Linked DNA regions of Homo sapiens. The protein of the gene in region 2 interacts with the protein of the main gene of each other region in a pairwise test. Each region holds a gene or a part of one and is shown on either strand. Other genes may lie near its edges.

The links. Proteins that work in one complex are often made in the same cells at the same time.
Region 1: the proteins of KLHL38 (region 2) and TEPSIN interact in binary tests that used the Homo sapiens proteins (3 or more experiments, as listed by UniProt).
Region 3: the proteins of KLHL38 (region 2) and TRIM42 interact in binary tests that used the Homo sapiens proteins (3 or more experiments, as listed by UniProt).

What each region holds. Positions count from the first base shown.
Region 1 is NC_000017.11:81,229,038-81,236,061, forward strand, and holds part of TEPSIN (AP-4 complex accessory subunit tepsin), read right to left. Parts: intron 6,247-7,024; exon of another isoform or gene 5,012-6,246; coding exon 4,944-5,011; exon of another isoform or gene 4,902-4,943; intron 4,680-4,901; coding exon 4,601-4,679; intron 4,565-4,600; exon of another isoform or gene 4,467-4,564; coding exon 4,395-4,466; intron 3,482-4,394; coding exon 3,278-3,481; intron 3,173-3,277; exon of another isoform or gene 2,985-3,172; coding exon 2,810-2,984; intron 2,655-2,809; coding exon 2,541-2,654; intron 2,440-2,540; coding exon 2,361-2,439; intron 1,642-2,360; coding exon 1,507-1,641; intron 1,204-1,506; exon of another isoform or gene 965-1,203; intron 891-964; exon of another isoform or gene 701-890; intron 440-700; coding exon 1-439. UniProt on the Homo sapiens protein: Associates with the adapter-like complex 4 (AP-4) and may therefore play a role in vesicular trafficking of proteins at the trans-Golgi network.
Region 2 is NC_000008.11:123,650,780-123,658,711, reverse strand, and holds the start of KLHL38 (kelch-like protein 38), read left to right. Parts: upstream 1-4,910; 5' UTR 4,911-5,126; intron 5,127-5,300; exon of another isoform or gene 5,301-5,784; 5' UTR 5,785-5,785; coding exon 5,786-7,135; intron 7,136-7,932.
Region 3 is NC_000003.12:140,695,058-140,701,668, forward strand, and holds the end of TRIM42 (tripartite motif-containing protein 42), read left to right. Parts: intron 1-5,358; coding exon of another isoform or gene 5,359-5,457; exon of another isoform or gene 5,458-5,685; intron 5,686-5,830; coding exon 5,831-5,917; 3' UTR 5,918-6,093; downstream 6,094-6,611.

The DNA of each region.
Region 1 (7,024 bases), on a different chromosome or scaffold from region 2:
CCGCAGCAGCCCCAGCCCCCACCAGGCGGGGACAGGCCACCAGCTCCATGCCAGCAAACAAGGAGTCGCGGCTCCACGCACAGCTGCTGGGGCCTCTCTTTGGGCTGTCCGTGCCCCCTGGGATCCGTTCAGGTCTCCACCGCCTGCTTTCTGCCAGTCTGGCCTCGGCCTCGCTGGGGTCTCCGGGGGCTGGAATGGGGGAGGCATCTGGGGGTGGGGTGGGCACAGGGCTGGACGGCATCCCAGATGAGGGAGCAGGGCTCCGGGACGAGACCGGGGTTGAACTCAGAGGCTGCAGGAAGACCTGGCTCCCAGGGAGAGGCACAGCGTCGGTCAGCAGGTCAGATGGGCCTGGGAGGGCGGCTGTGGGGCCAGGCTCAGCTGAGGTGCCCCGGGCAGGGGACAGCTGCCCACAGGAGGCCTCAAAGTGCCTCAGGATCTGAAAGAGGAAGGAGGAACCAGGGAGGTTCCTATGCAACCCTGGGAAATGTGGGGACCAGGGCCCGCTTCTCCCTAGGACCTCCTCAGTCCCTCCACCCAGAGGGCAGGGCCACCTCTGGGCAGGACACCGGCTGCTGGGAGGGGCTGGGGCAGTGCACCCAGTTGTCATCCCACCGAGAGCAGCTGCTGGGCTGGTGCTGGCGACACGGGGCAGGTGTCACATACACACCTCGAATCTTGCTCCTTTACTCACTACTAGACAAATGGACACCCTCCCCGTCATAACCCGCCAGGCACTGCCGGAGGGAGTGAACACGTGGCCTGGCACATCTGGGCATTTCCAACTGTTGGACGCAGGGTTCTTCCAGCATGCCCGTTTTAGAAACCCCACTATGAGGTTCGCCTGCGGTGGTGCGAACCCCAGGCTCACTCGTCGCTCTGACTGAAAGGTGAGCTAGCAGATGGCCAATGACAGTTAAGGATGACTTGGGGATGGGTGACTGAGGACCTGTGTTTCCAGCAGCCAGGGAGAAAACAGGAAGAAAGAAGCTGGGAATGCCCACAGGCAGAGGGAAGGTGCCAGGGCCTGGCGGCCGGGAGAGGCCTCCCCGTGTGATTCCAGTGGCCGCCAGGCAGTTCAGAGTGTTCAAGTGCACAGAGATGAATGGAACCATTTCTGCCCTCCGGAGCTTGGGAGTTGAGCATGAGCTGTGTCATGGGTGGCAAACTGCATGTGCAGTCAGGGAGGGCTTCCTGGAAGAGGTAAGTGTGAGGCCAAGACACAAGGGCAGGAACATTAAGGCAGCGGAGTCTGGGGGCTTCCAGGAATAGGTAGAGGCCAGTGTACTGTGAGTGCTGCAGAGTTTGGGTGGAAGGCGGGAAGGCAATGGGGAGGTGAGGACCCTGACTTGCTGCTGCTCCCTCTGCCAGCGGGACAGGGACTTGAGAGGGGGTCCGGGAAGGGCTGACCAGGCGCCGGGCAGGGACGGGGTGGCCGTGGACTGCAGCGTATCTCCCACTGTACCCTTGGACCCCGGTGTGCGTGTGGCCTCCGCAGCTGCCCACCTTGGTGGCCTTGTTGGTCACAGGTCCCGGGCTGCCCATGCTGAGCTCCTGCAGCCACGGCCGGGTGCGGAGGAGGATGTGCTCCTGGGGGAGGAGGTCGCTGCTCCCCAGGGAGGCGATGGCACACAGCGCCCTCTGCGGGTGAAGGGAGGGGACATCAGCACCCATGGGGCAGCAGGTCCACGCCAGGGAGGCCTATTTGGCCATCTCTCTCCCTCTTCTTCCTCCTCATCAATGACTGGAGTGCCAGGAGGCCCCAGAGACAGCTCCACCACAGCCCTGTCCTCACCGCCTTACACCCCGGATCCCAGACACCACAGCCCTGTCCTCACCACCTTACACCCCCGCTCCCAGACACCAGAGCCCTGTCTTCACCGCCTTACACCCCAGCTCCCGGACACCAGAGCCATGTCCTCCCCGGCTCCTGGACAGACCCCAGCGAGAAGCACGTGACCTGCTGCCCCGATTGCCTTACCTTCATTCCTCCGCACGCCCCCCGACACACGCACACACGTGTCCACACTTTCATGTGCATGCACACACACACAGGCACATACATACACAACCACACACATGCAGTCATGTACACACACACACAGATGTGTGCATACCACACACGTGCACAAGTGTGTACACACCGCACACATGCACGAGTGTGTACACACACAGGCATACATACACAGGCATACACACCCACACGCACACACACAGGCATGTGCGCACGCACAGCCACACAGAGGAATGTTCACACACAGGTGTGCACACAGGCACACGTGCACACACACGCACACGCACACACACGCACACAGGCACATGCACACAGTCACGCCCTCCCGCCCGCGTGTGCAGCTCACCAGCTGCGTGCATTCACTGGTCCCACGCAGGTGGCAGGTCAGCAGCTGCAGCACGGCCTCACAGTTGAGCAGTCCACACCTGCACAGAGGGGACACCTGGGTGGCGGGTGCGGCCCGTTCCCTCCTCCCTCGCCCACGGTTGGGGCTGAGGCAGAGCAGGGCGGGTCCGGGCGCACTCACGCTTTGATGAAGTGCTGTGCCTCCTCGCGGCTCAGGAAGGCGCGTGGTCCCCGAGTCACAGTCCTCACCAAGCTCAACTCCTGCTGACAGTCACTCAGGGCCACCACCTCGACCCTGCCAGGGGGAATGGCCGGGTCAAGGGTGAGTGGAGGCCATGCCCCCACTCCTGTCTCGCATGGGGGAGAACCTGGAGAGCAGGAGCCGCGCTGGGAGGGGGACAGTGTGGTGCCTCCGAGACCTCTCCCACATATCTGGCAGCTCCCGCTCACCTTTCTGCCAGGTCACCCGGCTCCCGGCTGGCCCCTGAATGGCTGTCGCTGCCGGAATGACTGCCCGAGTCCGAGACCCTGCTCAGGTCGCTGTTCTGGGAGGAATTCTGAGAGCTGGGGCCGCTGTCCAGCTCATCCCAGCCCCCTCCGGCCTGCCCAGGCTGATGCCTCACAGCTGGAGGAAACAGGACAGCCGGTGAGATCCCTGGGGCTTCAGGCCAGCCCCATGCCCACCTCCCGGGGCCCTGGACCAGGAGGCCTCGGGGGCTGAGTCCTGAGCTGAGGATGGGTGGCCACCTTGGCTCCAGCTTCAGCAAACACCAGCCCCATGGGCATGTGCTTCCGCCGCGGGTCCCACCCCTCCTGCTGTGTGGGAGGCCCTGGGATTTGCCTCCGTGGCCGCAAAGCCCCAGCGGTGACAGGAAGGAGTGACCCAGACCCCAAGGGGAGGAGCCCTCGCCTCGATACCTCGGGGACCTGGAATGGCCCCGGGGAGTAGGTTCCCCAGGGTTGGGGGACCGTGGCTGGCTGAAGGCATCATGGCAGGCTGGTAGGTGTCACCCCGCGGCAGGAGCCTCCGGGTACTGGGACTCTCGGGCCCGGGGCGCATGGCGCTGGCCACCACCTCTGCGGCCTTCTGGATGGTGGAGAGGAAGGCTTCGCCTGCCGAGCCTGTACCCGAGGAGAGGGAGATGGGACGGCCGCCCAGTGCGGCCCCCACCCGCGTTCTCTGGGAGCAGGGTGCCCGCATCGGCTCCCTGCTCAAGCTTGGAGAGGTCGGGGTACATGCTGCAGGTAGGGAGGCCTCCTGGTGGGCCCCAGGCCCTCTGGAAGCTCCCAGTGGACTCCGCTTTGGCATTCCCACTCCCAGTGGGCCTGGACACCAAAGCTCACTGCAGAGTTATGCCTCCGTCCCTCTGTCCTCTGGGGGTGAAGGTGTCCTAAGGGGCTTGGGCTTGGCCTTGGCTCAGGGAGGGTGTGTCCAGGGCTCGGGGAGGGGCCGGCCTTTCCTGTGTGAGTTCCCTGTAGAAGCTGCCCCGACACCAAAGTGTCGGCAGGAGCCCCAGGCTGTGCGCAGGACGGCGTGACACAGCCTAACGGTGAGCAGCTACACACCGCCCAGGGCCCGGCAGCAGGGCACAGCTGGGCTGGGGGCTGGGTCCCAGCCGCAGGCAGTGGTGCCACCTGTGGCTCTCCTGGCGCTGGTGAGCAGTTGTCCACTGGTACTGCCCCACCTCATAACAGCTCCACACGGGACTGCCTGAGTCACCTGCACCACAGCCAGGGGCACAGCCCTCGGCCCCTCTCAGAGTGGGACTCACCCCTGCCACGGGGCCCAGCCCTGACTTCTTGCTCGGCCTGGTTTCTCTCATCTGTCCATAAAGCAGCCCTGGCCACACCTGCCCCACCCCCACGTCAGCAGCCAGAGAGAGACAGTGGGGACAGCCCCAGGAAGGGTTGAGGCCATGTAGGGGAGGGGACGGGGGACAGCAGCTACTAGATGGGGCGGCATGGTCCGGCCCCCACCACCTCCTCATCCCCACACCCTGAGATGCCAGAGCCCATGCAGGCCCTCCCCACTCACCCGTGCGGCCGTGTTCCTTGCTGTAGCCGAAACCCTGGAGGGTGCTGTGCGGCCTGGCCTGGGAGCCCATGCCTGCAGAGGGTCCTCCGTTAGCAGCAAGCCGGCCCCCACCCTCGGCCCTGCCCACGGATGGCACAGACACCCAGGACACTCAAGGAGGCAGAAACCAGGTGCCAGAGCTGGACACGGTCCCCTCAGTCACCTACCTGTGGCAGGCGGGGTCCCCAGAGGCTGGGAGGGAGCCAGCGGCAACACGGTGTCCGAGAACAGGGTGCTCCCCAAGTCCTACAGGGGGAGGCGAAGGCCCTCAGTGTCCTCACACCAGGGCCTGCTGTACTCACCCTGCCACCCATATCAGCTCCGTTCTGTCCCCCGGACACTTCTCCTGAGCCACTCAGCTGGACACAGGCTCTGTGTCCACCAGCAAGGAGCAGAGGCAGGGGTCCCGGATGGGAGAACTGCAAACCCCCCAGCTGACATCCTGGCCCCAATCCCACCCCTCTACAGGAGGAGGGGCACCCCGCAGAGCGACACTGCTCCTGGGCTCACCTGCGCGGCCGCGCGAACCTTCTGGTACAAGCTGTTCCCGTGCAGAGGATCTGGGGGCCCTGCAAAAGCTGCAGAACAGAAAAGGCAAGTCGGGGGCAGGGCTGAGCCTGGCACCGCTGCTCCCTGTGGAGCACGGTGCCCTGGGCCCACTCCAGGGTGGCAAGTTCCTGCCACCAAGGCCCTTCTGTCACAGCCAATGGGATGCCCTCCTCCAGGACCCTGCAGAGGCCACACCTGAGCAGACCCTCAGCTCCCCCTCACCCATGCCCCACAGAGGCGAGACTCTCTCCACAGCAACCACCTCGTCTCCCCCAGGGTCGGCAACCCCTGGTGCCTGAGCGGGTGTGGCCTCCCCGAAGCCCACTCTCCCTGCCCCAGGTGCACCAGGGACCCCTCAGAGGCTTCCGGGGCCTGGAGGGAGAAACCAGCGTTCTTATCACAGCCTGAAAGCTCCACCTAGCCCCACCCAACCCCAGTCTCAGCCGCCTCGAGCTCCCCTGCTCTGAGAGTTCCTGTCATGATGAACTGGGGCTTCTTTCCTTAAATCTTCCGGCCCCAGGGCCCCCCAAGCCTACACCTGGGGCCGCGGCATCCTTTCAGGGCTCAGGCTGAGAGCTGTGCCTCTGAGAACCCCTCGAGAGCCTCTGTCACAGGCGAATCCACTCACGCCCCTCGGCCGTCTACCTCCACCCTGGCAGGCTGGTCCCGTGATTCGGAGACGATGCTCCTGGCTGTCCCTGGGCCCAGGGCTGGCGGCCACAAGCTGAGTCAATGGCTGGATGAACTGACACCCTGAGGCTGCCATCTTCCCTGCAGGAGCCCAGGGCACCCACCTGCCACCCCACGCTGCCCCTGCTCTGTGACAGAGCAGGAGCATCACCATCTTGGACAAGCCCCTCATTCTAAAGTTCACCTTAACCAAAAACTGCCTAAATCCATAGGGCATCAGCCTAATGGCTAAGGTCAGCACGACCATGAACCACAAATAACATCTCCAACCAGAAACATTCCAAACTCCTCCCCAACCAGAGACATGCTAGCCCCAAGATAACCCTTCTCCAGCCGGGAAGATGCCAGCTTCGAGAAAACCCACCTCCAGGCTGAAAAGATGCCTGCCCCAAGATAACCTTCCCTCCTTCCAACCCTGCCATAAACTTCTCCACACACATAAACATTCCGAGCTTCTGATAAGCCCTCTCATCCTAAAACCAACATTCAGTCTGTAAGATAAAGTGCTCCTGACCGCAATCGGCTGGGGGTGCCTCTCAGGTTTTAACTAAAGAAAATCTGTCTGTAACTGCCAGCTGCGTTTTCTTTCCTCTTTCTGACGCTCTGCGCGCGTGGGGCAGGCCATCCTCACTGCACACCCACCACCTGGAGCAGGGCGCCCCGTCTCTCACGTGTGGCATCTGGCACCCACTTTCCTCACAGGGCCTGTCCTGACACCTCCCACAGCCTGTGTGTCACCCAGGGCCAGTGTCCAGGCACGGCAGGCAACAGCCATCATCCATAGCTGCCTCTGCACAGGAGAGACTCTGGTGCCGACAAGAACCCAGGGTCTGAAGAAGAGCCTTTCCCATCCTCAGGTCCTGCTGTGCCCCATCCCCCTACCTGCTGCAGCCCCCACCCCAGGGCGTGTCCCCGAGACCACTGAGGCCACGACGTACATGCACCAACCACAGCCACGGGAGTGGCCTGGAGCCCGGGGCCCTCTGGCCCGCTGAATGGTGAGGATAAATGGCTGGTGCTGCCTTGGCCCCAAAGCTGTGAGGAGCTCTGTGAGGATGGCGAGAGCACCCCCGCACTGCCGTCCCCTCAGGGGCATCTACTGCCTAAGTCATGTGTCACAACTGTCTATGGCGGCCCAGGGCACTGGCCCCTGCGGAACACCTAGAGCTGCATGCCCACTTGCCATAAAGTGGGACAACACTGGTTTCGACACCGGTTTTGGGGTGAGCCCAGTGGATGGTACACCCTGAGGTCTCCACAAGCAAGCAGTGGCACGAGACAGACTCAGTCTCCCTCCCCAGAATTCCCCACTCAGGGGCTGGGGTGGGGTCCAGACATGGTGCGCCCAGTGA
Region 2 (7,932 bases):
GGCCAAGACAGTGTATTATTCTTTGTGACTCACAGTGCTGAAACAGGAGAGTAAGAAAGCATCCTTGGTCCTGTTCTTTCTTTCTTCCCAGTTTGAAAGCCCAGAAAGCTGATCTGTGGCATAAATGATGGATGAGGTCAGACTTTAGTTTGCAGGAAGAAAGAGGGGGGCAGACAGCCGGGTTATACCAACAATCTGCTAGCCATCCTGACGTCATCTGTGTTGTCCTTTTTTTCCCCTTATTCTCCCCAGGGGAAAAAAATATGAAGATATTTTCTGGTGATGGAGCAGGGTGGAGGAAGAGTTGGGAATGCAGACATTTGCACTACTGGCCTAGTCGGAGTAGCCTTAAAATTTTTGCTTCTGGAGGACGGTCGTCATGGCAACCCCTGGACTCATGGATCAGGCCCCCTTTCTGCCTTTGTCTGGAGTACAAAGTCCTTGTTCCGCTTTCCACGGGCTGCTGAAAAAACACACCCAGCCAGATAGACACAGACACAGATAGACAGGCTCTCACGTATACTTAAAAACATTTAAAATCTTATATCAAGACCCAGGTTTCTTCCTACAGCTTATAATGATTCAGTTAATTGCAACCTTACCTGTCTGCTCCTCATGTTTCTCTCCACCTGTAAGAACAGGAGATTCTCTGATGCTAGCAGGGGACAGCCTTCCAGAGAGACCGCAGCACCACAGGGGCCTTTATGTGCATGTTTGTCCATCCTTGAAACACAGCAATCACCATAGCTATGGTTCCTAATTAGAGTGAGGGGACTTCTCCTGGAAGGAGCAGATGGGGAGCACGGCCCCGAGTGGGTTGAGAGGACTGAGGGTAGGGTTGTGGCAGAGAGTGTTTTGTGGCTTCCCAGCTGTTGTTGTCAAACCTGCTGCTGACAGGAGCCAGCCTGCCCTTTCCTTGGGGACCCAGACCCCGCACACCCAGATAGGAAAGAAACCAAGGCCTCCTGAGTCAAAGTGCCCACCATGGCAATCCAAAACTCCAGGAGGGAAAATGAAGGCTTTCTGGATTGACTTACAAGGGCAAACTCATCAAGGGCACCTGCTGGGAGCTCGACTTAGGTTTCTTCTCTGCACTTGGCTTCAGGCGAGAGCCGTGAGGAAGCTCTGAAGAGCCCTCATCCCTCAGTCTCAGTTTCTCCCAGTCCCTGTTCTAGGCCACAGATTGCAGAGAACACCTCAGGGTACAAACCACAGGAAGGTGATCTAGAAGGGCCAGGTGAGGAAATAAGTGCAGAGAGGTTAATTGACTCATCCAAAGATGCACAGCTAGTCGATAGCAGAGCCCAGACTGAATGCCAGGACTCCTGGAGGCTAAGTAGATCATGAGGAACACAGCAATTGCTCAAGGAAAAGGAAAATGCTAGAATGCACAGGGGACCAATTGAGACACTGAAAACCAGGCACCAAGACCCATTGGAATCTAATGAGATTAATTTTAGAGTAATAATATCATACTGACCATACTTTACTATGAATATACACTGTGCCAGGCACTTTACTGCATACTGCACATACATTATTTCACTGTGACAAGGATGGTTATCCCCACTTAACAGATGGAGAAACTGAGGCTGGAGGAGTATAAATAACTTACCCAAGACCACATGAATACTGAGGGGAAATGCCAAGATTATCCCCAGCCCTTCTGCCCCCAAAGTTCAGGCCTTGACTTGTTATGATACTGACTTTCATCAAAAGGAGGGCCGTGATTCATGCCTGTAATCCCAGCACTTTGGGAGGCCAAGGTGGGTGAATCTCTTGGGCCCAGCAGTTCAAGACCAGCCTGGGCAACATAGCAAAACCCTGTCTCTACAAAAAACACAAAAAATAGATGGATGTGGTGGCTCATGCCTTTAGTCTCAGCTTCTCAGGAGGCTGAGGTGGGAGGATCACTCGAGCCTCGGAGTTGGAGGCTACAGTGAGCCATAATCATGCCACTGCACTCCAGCCTGGGCCACAGAGTGAGACCCTGTCTCAGAAGAAACAAAAAAAGGAGAAACAATGAGCTGAATGTCCTCATTGATGTCATTTCTTTTAGGTTGCCATATGTTCAGGCCCTAGACTAAGACATCTTCTAGATGAAAGTTAAGACAAAAAGTATAAACCTCCCTGAGAGAAGTCAACTCATGAATGGGCTGGTTGGGCTACATGTGGGTGGTAGAGATGCTTTTTGGGGTCAAGCTTGGGCTTATATGTGTGTGTTTGCCATGTTGAACACTAAGACTCTGTGTCTTGACATTTGACATCTGACCTAGAACCAGGATCCTCCTGGTAGGCCAGGCCAACAAAACAGGGCCTATTTTTTCTAAACATTAGAAACCAAAAGATTTAGTAAAGTTGGTCAGACATTGATGCTGCACACCAAGGTCTATCTGAACAATTGACAGAGCTGGATTCCAGAAAGTTTAATTAGTAAGGGGATGTAGGGGAAAATCCAACATCCTTCCCAGGGAACGGTGCTGTGTTAATTCACTCCTAGGATCCCCTACCTATTACCCTCAGAATAAATCCTTGGCTTGCTTGCTGCCTGGAAGAGAAATCATGCAGGTGTTTCAGAGCATTAAGGAAGTTATTTCTTCCTCATGTTCACTCCGAGGTCAAGGACAAGAATGCTAGCTTTGGCGTTGGGAGGACCTCAGTTCAGTTCCCAGCCTGAACTTAAGTCTTGCACTGCAGTATAAAACAAGTGTTTTACTTTTCACTTCATCACATTATTGGATTTGATTATGTGGATAATCAGGGCTGCTCCAGAGCATATTTGCAGGGCAGTCTACGCAGTAAGCCATACATGGCAGCTCTGCAAAACCGGCACAGCAGACAGTGGTGTGAAGTCCACCCAGCAAAGCTCCCTCTCTTTCCCCATTCCCCATTCTGTTCCAGCTCAATGCAGGAAGTGTATGAAATTCACCCCCTATAAGCCAGGCCCTGTGCTGGGTGCTAGGAGTAGAGCTACAATGAAGTCAAGATTCCTGCTGCCCAGAGACTTCCACTCTAATAAGAGAGACACAGGGAAGTAAACATAATCTCAGTGAGGTATGAGGCATGCCATTAGAGGCATGTAGAAGAATGGAAACTGCACAGAGGAGTGTGAAGTTAAGTGTCTTAGAGAGGGGTAAAAAGACTTGCAGAGAAGTGATACATAAACCAAGTTTTGGAAGACGAACAGAAACAGTGAAAATGATAGAGTGAGCAGAGGGGAAGAGCTCATAGAAAGGGATAGAGTACGAATCAGAGGATCCCTGGGCTCTTTCAGGAATGTGGCTACTCACTTATTATGTCACCAGCACAGCTCACCAACTCGGACATATGGAGGAACAGCTCCTCTCACCTGCTCCCTGCTTGTGCCTCCATGGGTCTCTGACCCCCTTAGCTTAGGCCTCCTGCTCCTAATTCTGGCCTCCAGGCCCATGGCCCCAGTAACATGTTTTGGATCCATTTCCCTGGCCTTGACCTTCTGGACTCTTTTGGGCATAATCCACTCTACGATCGGCAACTGTGAATGAGAAACCCTCTTCCTTCCACCCTGCCCTGTGGTGTCCCAAAGGCCAGGCCAGCCCAGCTTCCCCAACAGTGACCAGATGCATACAAGGATCTGTAAGTGTCTCATGGAGCTAGATTACCACACATGAGTGGCAGTAGACATGGTTCCAGAAGCAGACAGGACACCAGTCCGATTCTGGCTAAGGAGTCCTGCAGACATGGGGAGCCACTGAAGGGCCTGATGCTGGGGACTGGCAAATTCTGAGTTGCCTTCCCAGGGGCTGCTCCAGAGAAGACAGGGTGGATGTATTGGAGAGAGAAGTACTAGGAGCAAAGAAAAAAAAATGCATGGAAGACCATTGCACTAGTTGAGCAAGACGTTGAGTAGGAGACAAAGTCAGGCTTCCCTGCCTTTTGTGGCTAAGACAATCATGGACCTCCCTGAAGGCAGGGGCAGAACAGACCTGAGGTCCCCCTCACTCTCTCTCGTGATTCTGATTGTTATTGAAAGCTGCCTCCTACCACATCACTATCATCATTCCTCCCCCGATTCTCTACCTCCTGCTTCTTTTCCTCCTCCTCCTATTCCTCCTCCTCTTCTTCCTCCTCTCGTCTCTCTCCCTCCCTCTGTCCCTGCTTCTTCTTCCTCCTCATCCTCCTTCATCTTCTTTCTCTCTCTCCCTAAAGCAATATGCCTTGCCTCCTGCCTCTAGCTCAAGCTGCCAGACAAGACAAAATGGAAAAGTAAGACAGAAAAGGAAGTCTGAACTATAAAAAGCCAGCTGAAGAGCAATCAGCACGTGTCTGGGAGAGGCAGACGCGACAGGAGGAGCTCGGCCTTACCACTGTCAATCAGAGGTTCCTGAGTAAGGAGACCTGACAAAGGTTTGGGCCTTCAGGAGTCTGGAAACCCTGGGATGCTCAACAACAACAACAACAAAAAACAACAACTTTTGTCATGGATTTCATCACCTAGGATCCTGGAGGAGGAAATCACAGCTCTCCCCAGCGATCCCGCCAGGCAGATGGTGGGAAATAGAGATCCATTGAATAGCACCCACAGGCTCATGTTCCGGCTTCCCTTGTGACCACCTGCCACCTCCACTGTGGCCCAGAACCATCTTCAGTGACTCTCCACAGGTCACAGCAACCTGTTTACAGACGGCTAGAATTCCCAAGCACTTTTAGGACAGGGGACTCGGGATGGTTCCAAGCAGACAGCAAAGTCTTCTCTAAGAGAAGCCGCTCCTCCCGATCTATTTTTGCCGATGTAAACACTTGCCAAGGAAACGAGGCATGTGGGCATGCGCCGGCCCTGCAGGCCCTCGGGTTGCTGCAAAAGGCAACTGGAAAGTCACATGTCATAACAGTGGAAAGTACATATGCAACTATTCTTAGCCCTGGAATGTATACACTGTCTCCCTGCCCAGCAGTCCTTGCACAAAGCTCTAGAAAACTATGAAAGTGCCTTCAGCATAAACAAATCCAGAAATCTCCCAGGACAAATCATTTGCCAACTGAAAGAAAGGCCTGGGGTTTATGGTTTCCCTTGGAGCTAGAGGTAGAAACTCTCCGGGGGGATAAGTCAGACCAGGCACCAGTGGATGTCACCGCAGCAAAACAAGGTAAGTGTCCCTCATACTTATTTCTTCTGCAAGTAGAAAACCAGGTGTCATCCAATAAACCAGGGGATTGTTTGGTCTTTCCTTTTATTTATTCTATCTTTAAAACAAGACTCAATGAAGTCATATTTAAATATATGCATCAAAGGTCCATTTTCTTCCCTCATTTCTGTCCAGTGACCAGAGGGCCACACCTCCAGAATATCATCCTTGGGGAATGATTGACACCCAGAAAGAGAGGTTTAGACATCTGTTACTCAATAACAGATATGCCATCGATCTGGAAAAAGGCTCATGAACTTCTGCTGGTCAAATCCATGGACTGTTATCTTGCTTCAGACTAACATTTCAGCTTCTGATAACAGAGTAACTTCCAACAACTTTAGTTTGTTTGTTTGGTTGTTTCTCTCAGATTAGCTGAAGATACTATTTGCCTATTACTTTTGAAAATAACCATAACCCAAAAGGGCTCAGGTCTGAGATGTATGTGGCCTTCCTTTCCAATCTTCCCTACACAATATCCATGGTGACATCCGCAAACATCATGGGGAATGGAATAGGAGCACTGGTCTTGGAGTCCCCACAGCTGAACCCTCCAGCACATGCAGCTGAGAAAGGTTTGACTCTTGCTGACTCTGGGGGCTTCCTTCCCTCTTTGTAGGATGGACGAGGAGTCACTAGATGGGCTGCTCTTCAAAGACCACGACTTCTCTTCTGACTTGTTGAGGCAGCTCAACAGCTTAAGGCAAAGCAGGATCCTGACTGATGTGAGCATCTGTGCCGGTGCCCGGGAGATCCCCTGCCACCGCAACGTGCTGGCCTCCAGCAGCCCCTACTTCAGGGCTATGTTCTGCAGCAGCTTCCGGGAGAAGAGTGAAGCCAAAGTGCAGCTGAAAGGCATTGACCCCCCAACCCTGGACCAGATCGTCTCCTACGTGTATACGGGGGAGGCACATATTGCCACTGACAATGTCCTCCCCGTGATGGAGGCCGCCTCCATGCTACAGTTCCCCAAGCTGTTTGAGGCCTGCTCCTCGTACTTGCAGAGCCAGTTGGCCCCCAGCAACTGCCTGGGTATGATCAGACTCTCAGAAATCTTAAGCTGCGAGACCCTCAAGAAGAAAGCCAGGGAGGTGGCACTGACGTCCTTCCCAGAGGTGGCCGCATCGGCCGACCTGAAGGAGCTCTGTGCCTTGGAGTTGAGGGACTATCTCGGAGATGATGGGCTCTGTGGGGAGGAGGAAAAGGTGTTTGAGGCCCTCATGGTTTGGATCAAGCATGACCTCCAGGCCCGGAAGCGATACATGCAGGAACTGTTCAAGCAGGTCAGGCTGCAGTACATCCACCCAGCCTTCTTTCACCACTTCATCGCCAACGATGCCCTCCTGCAGTCCTCGCCTGCATGCCAGATCATCTTGGAGACCGCCAAGAGACAGATGTTCTCTTTGTGTGGCACCACCGTCCCAGACTGCAAACTCCTGTTGCATGTCCCTCCAAGAAACTCTTACCAAGATTTCCTCATCCTCTTGGGCGGAAGGAAGGACAGCCAGCAGACCACCAGGGACGTCCTACTGTACAGCAAACAGACCGGCCAATGGCAGAGCCTTGCCAAACTCCCGACACGGCTGTACAAGGCCTCTGCCATCACCTTGCACCGCAGCATCTATGTGCTGGGGGGCATGGCTGTCAGCTCAGGGAGGAGTCTGGTCAGTCACAATGTCTACATCTTCTCCCTGAAACTCAATCAGTGGAGGCTGGGGGAGCCCATGCTGGTGGCCCGCTACTCCCACAGAAGCACTGCCCATAAGAACTTCATCTTCTCCATCGGGGGGATTGGAGAAGGGCAGGAGCTCATGGGCTCCATGGAAAGGTATGACAGCATCTGCAATGTCTGGGAGAGTATGGCCAGCATGCCCGTGGGGGTGCTCCACCCCGCAGTCGCTGTGAAAGACCAAAGACTCTATCTCTTTGGAGGAGAGGACATCATGCAGAACCCTGTGCGCCTTATCCAGGTAAATGGCCGGTTCTTCCCATCACGTAACTGCATGAGTATGTGTGCTTGGACACACCCACACCTGCTTGCACACACATGCACATGTATACATACACACCAAAAAACACATATATGCACATAAATATATATATGCACACATATACACAAACACACATATGCATACATGCGTGCACACATATATGCAGAAATGTATATTCATGCATACATGCATACACATATGCACACATATATGCAGATGCCAACATGCATACGTGTGCACATGCATACACATATACAATTCATGCATGCATACACACATTTACATATATCTACACATGCATGCACACATTTATACATATGCACGAACACAAATACGTACATGCATACATGCACACACATGTGCACCCATGTACACACATACCAACACTTGTTATTTGCAAGGAAGGAAGAGAGGAAGGGAGGGAGGGAAGAAGGATTTTCAGCAAGATATTTTTCAATTTATGAATTTTTTTGTGCAAAAATAATACATAACAAAGGATATCAAATACCATCCCTATGCACAGAGTTTATCTTCATTTGATGAGAAAAATATATATCTAAAAATTCAAGTTATTATACAGCATATTGAAAGTCAGATAGTGAAGTCCCATAGGAATTTGGCAGGTGCTTCTAACTCAAGTCAGTAAGGCCTTAAAAGAAGATTCCCAAGCCTTGGTCCACACCTCTGTGACCAAATCCCCTGGAACCTGACCTCACATCACTGAATCAAAATATCTTTGTGTGAGATCCTAAAATGTATGGTTTACAAAAGTCCCC
Region 3 (6,611 bases), on a different chromosome or scaffold from region 2:
AACATGGCAAAATCCTGTCTCTACTAAAAATTAAAAAAAAGTCAGCTGGGTGTGGTGGTGTGCGCTTGTCATCCCAGCTACTTGGGAGGCTGAGGCACGAGACTCGCTTAAGTCTGGGAGGCAGAGGTTGCAGTGGGCCAAGATCAAGCCACTGCACTCCAGCCTGGGTGACAGAGTGAGACTCCATGTCAAAAAAATAAAAAAAGACCAGCTGACTAGCAACCTTAATTCCCCTTTGCTATGTGTGTAACCTAACATATTCAAAGGTTCTGGGATTGGGACATGGACATCTCTGGGGTCCATTATTCTGTCTACCACAATCTGTAAAGTGGATGTCCTAGGTTACATCAGACTTGGAGGTAAAAATTCAAGCCCAACAATAGTTACAAATTGGTAATTTTCTGGGTCTTTCCCTGTTAGCTCTTCAGGAAATGCAGCAACCCCTGTCCCCAACCATCCTCTCAAAGCCCTTCTCAGTCTGCACTGAGAGTCATCCTCGGTGTCTGATGGGGCTGAGGAAGTAGTCCTGCCAGCTGCCCTGAGTCTCTGCAGTGCTGCTGTCTTCCTATTCGGCCTGTGCTCCTGCTGAAACCCCAGCCACACAGCAGGACTGCCTGGCCATCATGAAATTCCCTTCCTGATTTTTCCTCTTCCTGCTGCAGACTCTCAGGCTGAGCCACACACCTTCAAAGATTAGGGTTGGAGCCACACACTTTCAAAGGTTAGGGTTGGAGGTCATTCAATCTGAATGACCACCACTATTTCACACTCAAAATAACTACCCCAAGCCTACCCCACAGCCACCCACACACTCACAGTGACTCCGTGCCCTAAAATGAAACCAAGATGGTTTGCATTCTTTATCTCCTTAGGATTTATTCTTTTCTAAAGAGCTCGTGACCTTTCATGTAAGCAGAACCCTGTTGGTCCTTCCTTTGCTTGCCCTGTAGATAGGCTTGAATCCTGGAACAAGTATAATTTCGGATCATGCTGGACCTGATTTCTTTTTAACCTCATGTACAGAGGTCTGAATTAATTATACACCTCAGTCATGGTCCATCATTAGCACTGATCTATACAAAGCCCTATTCTTATTTATATATTCCCTTTTGTGACATCCATTCTAATATGTTTTATGTGTATCTTTTTGTTTTTATGTGTTCTTCCATGATTTGCATTGTTGTTTTCAATGTGTTATTAATTTACACAATTAGCATTGTGTTACATATCTTACTTTGTTTCTTACCTTTTTTTCTTAAATGCTGTGTTTTTATGATCCATCTATGTTGTTATGGGCATTTTGTCTTTTACTCCTGATAACACCTGATCTTTCAGAATGTGCATTTGTTCACCACATGTTACCTGTCTATTTCAGGCAGGATGGACACCCAGGTGACCTCCAATAATACTGCAGTGAACAGCCTTATATATGTCACCTTATGGACACCATAGGTGTGTAAGCGTTCTCTGGGTTATTGATTAGTTTGCTAAGGCTTCCATAAGAAAATGCCACAGACTGGGTGGCTTAAACAGAAATTAGTTTTTGCACAGTTCTTGAGGCTGGAAGTCTGCAATCAAAATGTTGGCAGGGTTGGTTTCTCCTGAGACCTCTCTCCTTGGTTTACAGATGGTCACCTTCTCACTGTCTCCTCACATAGTCCTTCCTTTGTGCACATGCATTGTGATACCTCTCTGTGTTTAAATTTCCTCTTCTTATAAAGACACCGGTTAGGTTGGATTAGGGTCCTCATTTTAATTAAATCACCTCTTCAAAGGCCCTATCTCCAAATATAATCACACTCTAAGTACTGGGGGTTAGGGCTTTGACATATAAATTTGGGGTCAGGTGCAATTCGCCCCATATTAGATACATATGAGTGAAATTTCTAGGCCATTGACATGTGGGTACTTAATTTGACCACATCCATGTACACTTCCATAAGGAATAGATTAGAGCCACTATACCCTAAGCCCCACCTACATTTAGCAAGATCCAGTTTTCTATTATTTTGCTAGCCCAATAGGCATAAAATGATATGTCCTTATTATTTTAAATTTCATTTTATATTTTTGTTAGTTTTCAGGATTTCTTCTTCTGTAAAGAACCTGTTGATATCCTTCGCCCATTTTTCTATTGCATTTTTCTTTTTCTAGGTGATTTGCAGGATGTCCTTATATATTCTAGGTAATGGTTTTAGACATTGGTATTATCTTCTCTTCTGACATTTGCCTATCAGCTTTGTTCATAGTGTACTTCATAAAATAGCAGAAATACTTAATTTTGATATAATCAAAATCATCAATTATTTTTTCTTTATAGCTTAACCTTTTGAAGTTTTATTTAAAAAGTCTTTTCTTAGGATTAGATCACAAAGATAACCTTCTATATATTCTTTTATTAAATTTACAGTTTCACCTTTCAAATTTAGCTCTTTAATCCATCCAGACTCTGCCTTTGTATGTATCAAATGTATGTATGTACTCTGCCTATGTAGTCCTAGGTAGGGATGTTCTTTTTCACCATGTAGTGAACCAGTTTTCCCAATACCATCTACCAAGAAATATCTATTATTCATATTTATACAATGGAAATGCCACTTTTGGTTTTTTTGTTTATTTGTTTGTTTATTTTTTGTTTTGTTTTGAGACGGAGTCTCGCTCTGTCGCCCAGGCTGGAGTGCAGTGGCGCGATCTCGGCTCACTGCAAGCTCCGCCTCCTGGGTTCACGCCATTCTCCTGCCTCAGCCTCCCTAGTAGCTGGGACTACAGGCGCCCGCCACCACGCCCGGCTAAATTTTTGTATTTTTAGTAGACACGGGATTTCACCGTGTTAGCCAGTATGGTCTCTATCTCCTGACCTCGTGATCTGCCGGCCTCAGCCTCCCAAAGTGCTGGGATTACAGGCATGAGCCACCGCGCCTGGCCAGAAATGCCACTTTTATATTCAGTTTCCATATATTTAGGGGTATGTCTCTGAGGACTCTATTACATGCCATGGGTCTATATTTCTGCTCTTATATCAATACCATACTTGTTTTATTATTTTTGAACCTCAGCTTTCTGCCATGTCTTTATGAACTGCTACGGTAAGTATGCCCATTATCCTTCTTTCTTTTTCAGAAATTATTTAGCTAATCATAGAAATTTATTTCTTCATATACATTTTGGAGTAACTTGAATTCTTAGAAAACATTCAGATAGAATTTATTCAGAAGGCATTGTGTTTCTAAATTAATTTGGAAACAAATGGTATTTTTGTAATATGTTTGAACATTTACTCAAACCATAGTCTATGTTCTTTACTGGGGTGTTTAAGTTTTCCTACATAGGTGCACATATTCCTGGTTAAACTAGATCATTTAGAGATCTAACGTACAGCATGAGGGCTACAGTTAATAATATTGTATTGATAGAAAATTTGTTAAGATTTTAGGTGTTCTTTTCACACACACAAAAAAAGATAACTGTGAGATGGTGGGTATGCTAATTTGCCTGCCTGTAGTAATTATTTTACTTTGTATACATATGTCAAAACATCATGTTGCATACCATAAATAAATAAACCAAATAGTTTACAGACTGTTGATATTATGAAAGTTATTTTATTATATTTTCTAATAGATTACTGGTTTAGAATAAAGACTATTTCTGTTTGTAGGGTAATCTTGATTCCAGCAATGTCAGAAACTCTCCTTACTATTCTGAGACCCAATCTGCTATTTCTGCTTGTTTTCCCAGGCATATGATCCTATCTCCTATAAAGAATGATGGTTTTATCTGTTTACTTACAATTCTCACAATTCTATTTCTTTTTTCTTTCCTTATGGCTTTGGCCAGAACCTTGAGTCATACATAAAATTGTGGCAGTGTTAGTAGATATCCTTGTCTTATTCCTGATATTAACGTTTCTCCATTGAGTTATTTTTTATTTAGTTTTTATGGTATATAATCCTTATTAAGTTAAGGAAAATTACTTCTAGGTTTCTGAGAAATAGGTACTTATTAAATTTTTTGCATTATTTGAGGTAATTACATGATTTTTCTCCTTCAGGCCATTATTAATGAAGTGAATTACATTGACTGATTTTTCTGATACTAAATTCCACTTCCATTCATGGAATAAATCCTGTGTGTTCATGATGTATTACTTTTTAATACAGTTTACTTCAGTTAGCTCGTATTTTATTTTGGTTTATTGCATCTATAATTATAAGGGAATTGGGCTCAATTTTTTGCTTATATTGTTTTTATCTGGTTCTGGAATCAATATTTCACAACCTTCATAAAAAGAGCTGGGAAACTTTTTGCTCTTCTATTTTCTAGAATAACTCTTAAGAGTTTGGTAGAATTCATCTGGAAAGCAATATGAGCCTGGGGCATTTGGGGCAGGGAAGAGATGTCAACTATCATTTCAATTTCTTTAATATTCCAAGTTTTGTTTTTCTGTTTCTTCTGTCCTTCTTTCTACCTGATTCCCTTTTTTCATAGACACACCTCAATCCTCACTGCTCCATTCACATATCACATACAGTCTTTATCTTTGAAGATTCTGACTATATTTTAAAGCAAAAACTCAATCTCCTATTTATGAGTTAATTCCTAACACCTCGTAACACCGTTCCATCTTCCTCATGCCCTCTGATAACTCTGTGTGTATCTTGGACATTATTTATACTACTTTTATCAGGGTTATCTCTATGCATTATTTCCATTTCTACTCAGCAATGGATAATCTAATATCATGTATATAATATGACCTTTGCCTTGCATGCAGCCCTGTCTTCTCTAAAACCAAAAATTTTGTAAAAGTAGAGAGCATAATGCTAATAAGGGTCTGGCTTCTTTGTTTTTGCCCTTTCCCTTTATATACAAATATAGAAGGTTAAAAGCTTTGTACATAGAGACTTTGTGCCCTGTATAAACATTCCTCTTCACCATACAAACCCCACCCCCATTCTATCTCAAGTCCTCATTCACCTCAGCAGAGCCCATTGATCCAGTGGACTGTCTTTCATCCCTGGGTCTCGACCTCACTCCATAAATATTTATTTGGGGGGAAGGAATGGGAATGCTGCCAGACCACAGTAGTGAAGAAACCCAGTATCTTCAAGGTAAGGCATGGAGGGCAACATCTAAGCTAACTTGGTGAGATTTCTAGGAGGGTTCTTCTTACCCCTCGTGCCCAGTACAGTCTTTCTTTTTCAGGTAGCACTGGCCATTCACTGTAATTAAAGATAGTATGAAGTGTTTCTGCTAGCATCAAAGGAAAACAACTGGCAGATTTACAAATTATATTATATTATAGTTCTATTCACTGTTCATATACTTCTCTAAGAATCTTCTCTTTTCCATAACTAGTGTTGGGACCACAGAGATGAAAGACTATCATTTCCCCCACACCCCAATCAAGGTGCTCATGGTCTGGTAAGAAAGTCAAATGCATTAGCTGAAACTTAACAACTGATAAAAGCTGTGACAGAACCAAGTTCTAATGGCTGAGGAAGGATACAGAGGATCCTCTATGGTGAAGCTCACCTGCGGTCCAGCCCCATCACTGTCATCAGCACTTAGTCACATGAGCTACCCTAAAGGGAAGTAGGATCTGGCCTATGGAATCACAATCCCAGGACACTATAGCTGTGGGGCTTTGGGAAACCTTCCTGGTCCTTCTGAGCCTCAGCTTCTTCATCTATAAAGTGGCACCAACAGCCACTGTGGTGGTCGTGAGGAGTTAATGAAATGATGTGTGTAGTGTCTGACATGCAGAAGGGCCCAGGCTACTGGGAGCTGTTGTCTATTGGGTGTCATGACTCTTCGCTTCTGATTGCAGGTGGTAACACCAGATGGACATGGGAAGAACCGAGCTAAGTGGGGCCTGCTGAAGAATATCCAGTCTGCCCTCCAGAAGCACTTCTGAGCCCCTTCAGAGCAGGAAACAACCTCAGACTCATCACAAAGTAGACATATACACACACATATATGTATGTATATTTTTCTCACCACATTCTTCAAGGAGGTTGTAGACAAATGTTTCCATGACCTCTCAGCTTTCCAACAGGAATCTTGTAAGAGCTAATAAAAGGAAATACCTGACATGGCTTGCTGTTTGTTCAATGACAACTATTTGTTATGATGACAGTAATAAGCAAGGCACTCAGCAAGTCTGTATATTTCCAGCTGCTCAGGTCTAGTCCTAGGCTCAGAATTCTGTGGTGTTTTGTAGGAGCAACACCCAGCTTCTAGGTGGTAAAAAGAACACTGTATTTTGCAGTCGGGACCCCGTAGGTGTGCATTCTAATGCTGGCCTAACTAGCTTTGAATGCTTGGGCAAGTCGCTGATTGCCACGGAATTCATTACCTCACCATGTAGTCTATTTTAAGGAGCCAACATTAAAATGTTTTTCCTAATTATTGAACTTGAATTTGCCTTTTCACAACTTTCAGCCCATGGTCTGAGGTCTACCTCTAAGCCATAAAGAATGAGAGCCCTCCCTCTTCTCCTTCTGGACATAGCAAAGGAAGAACGGTAGAATGCCTGGTTAGAGGATCCTCTATGGTCATTTGAAGCAAGGCATGGAAGAATGACAAAATCATGTATCAGCTCCAACCTC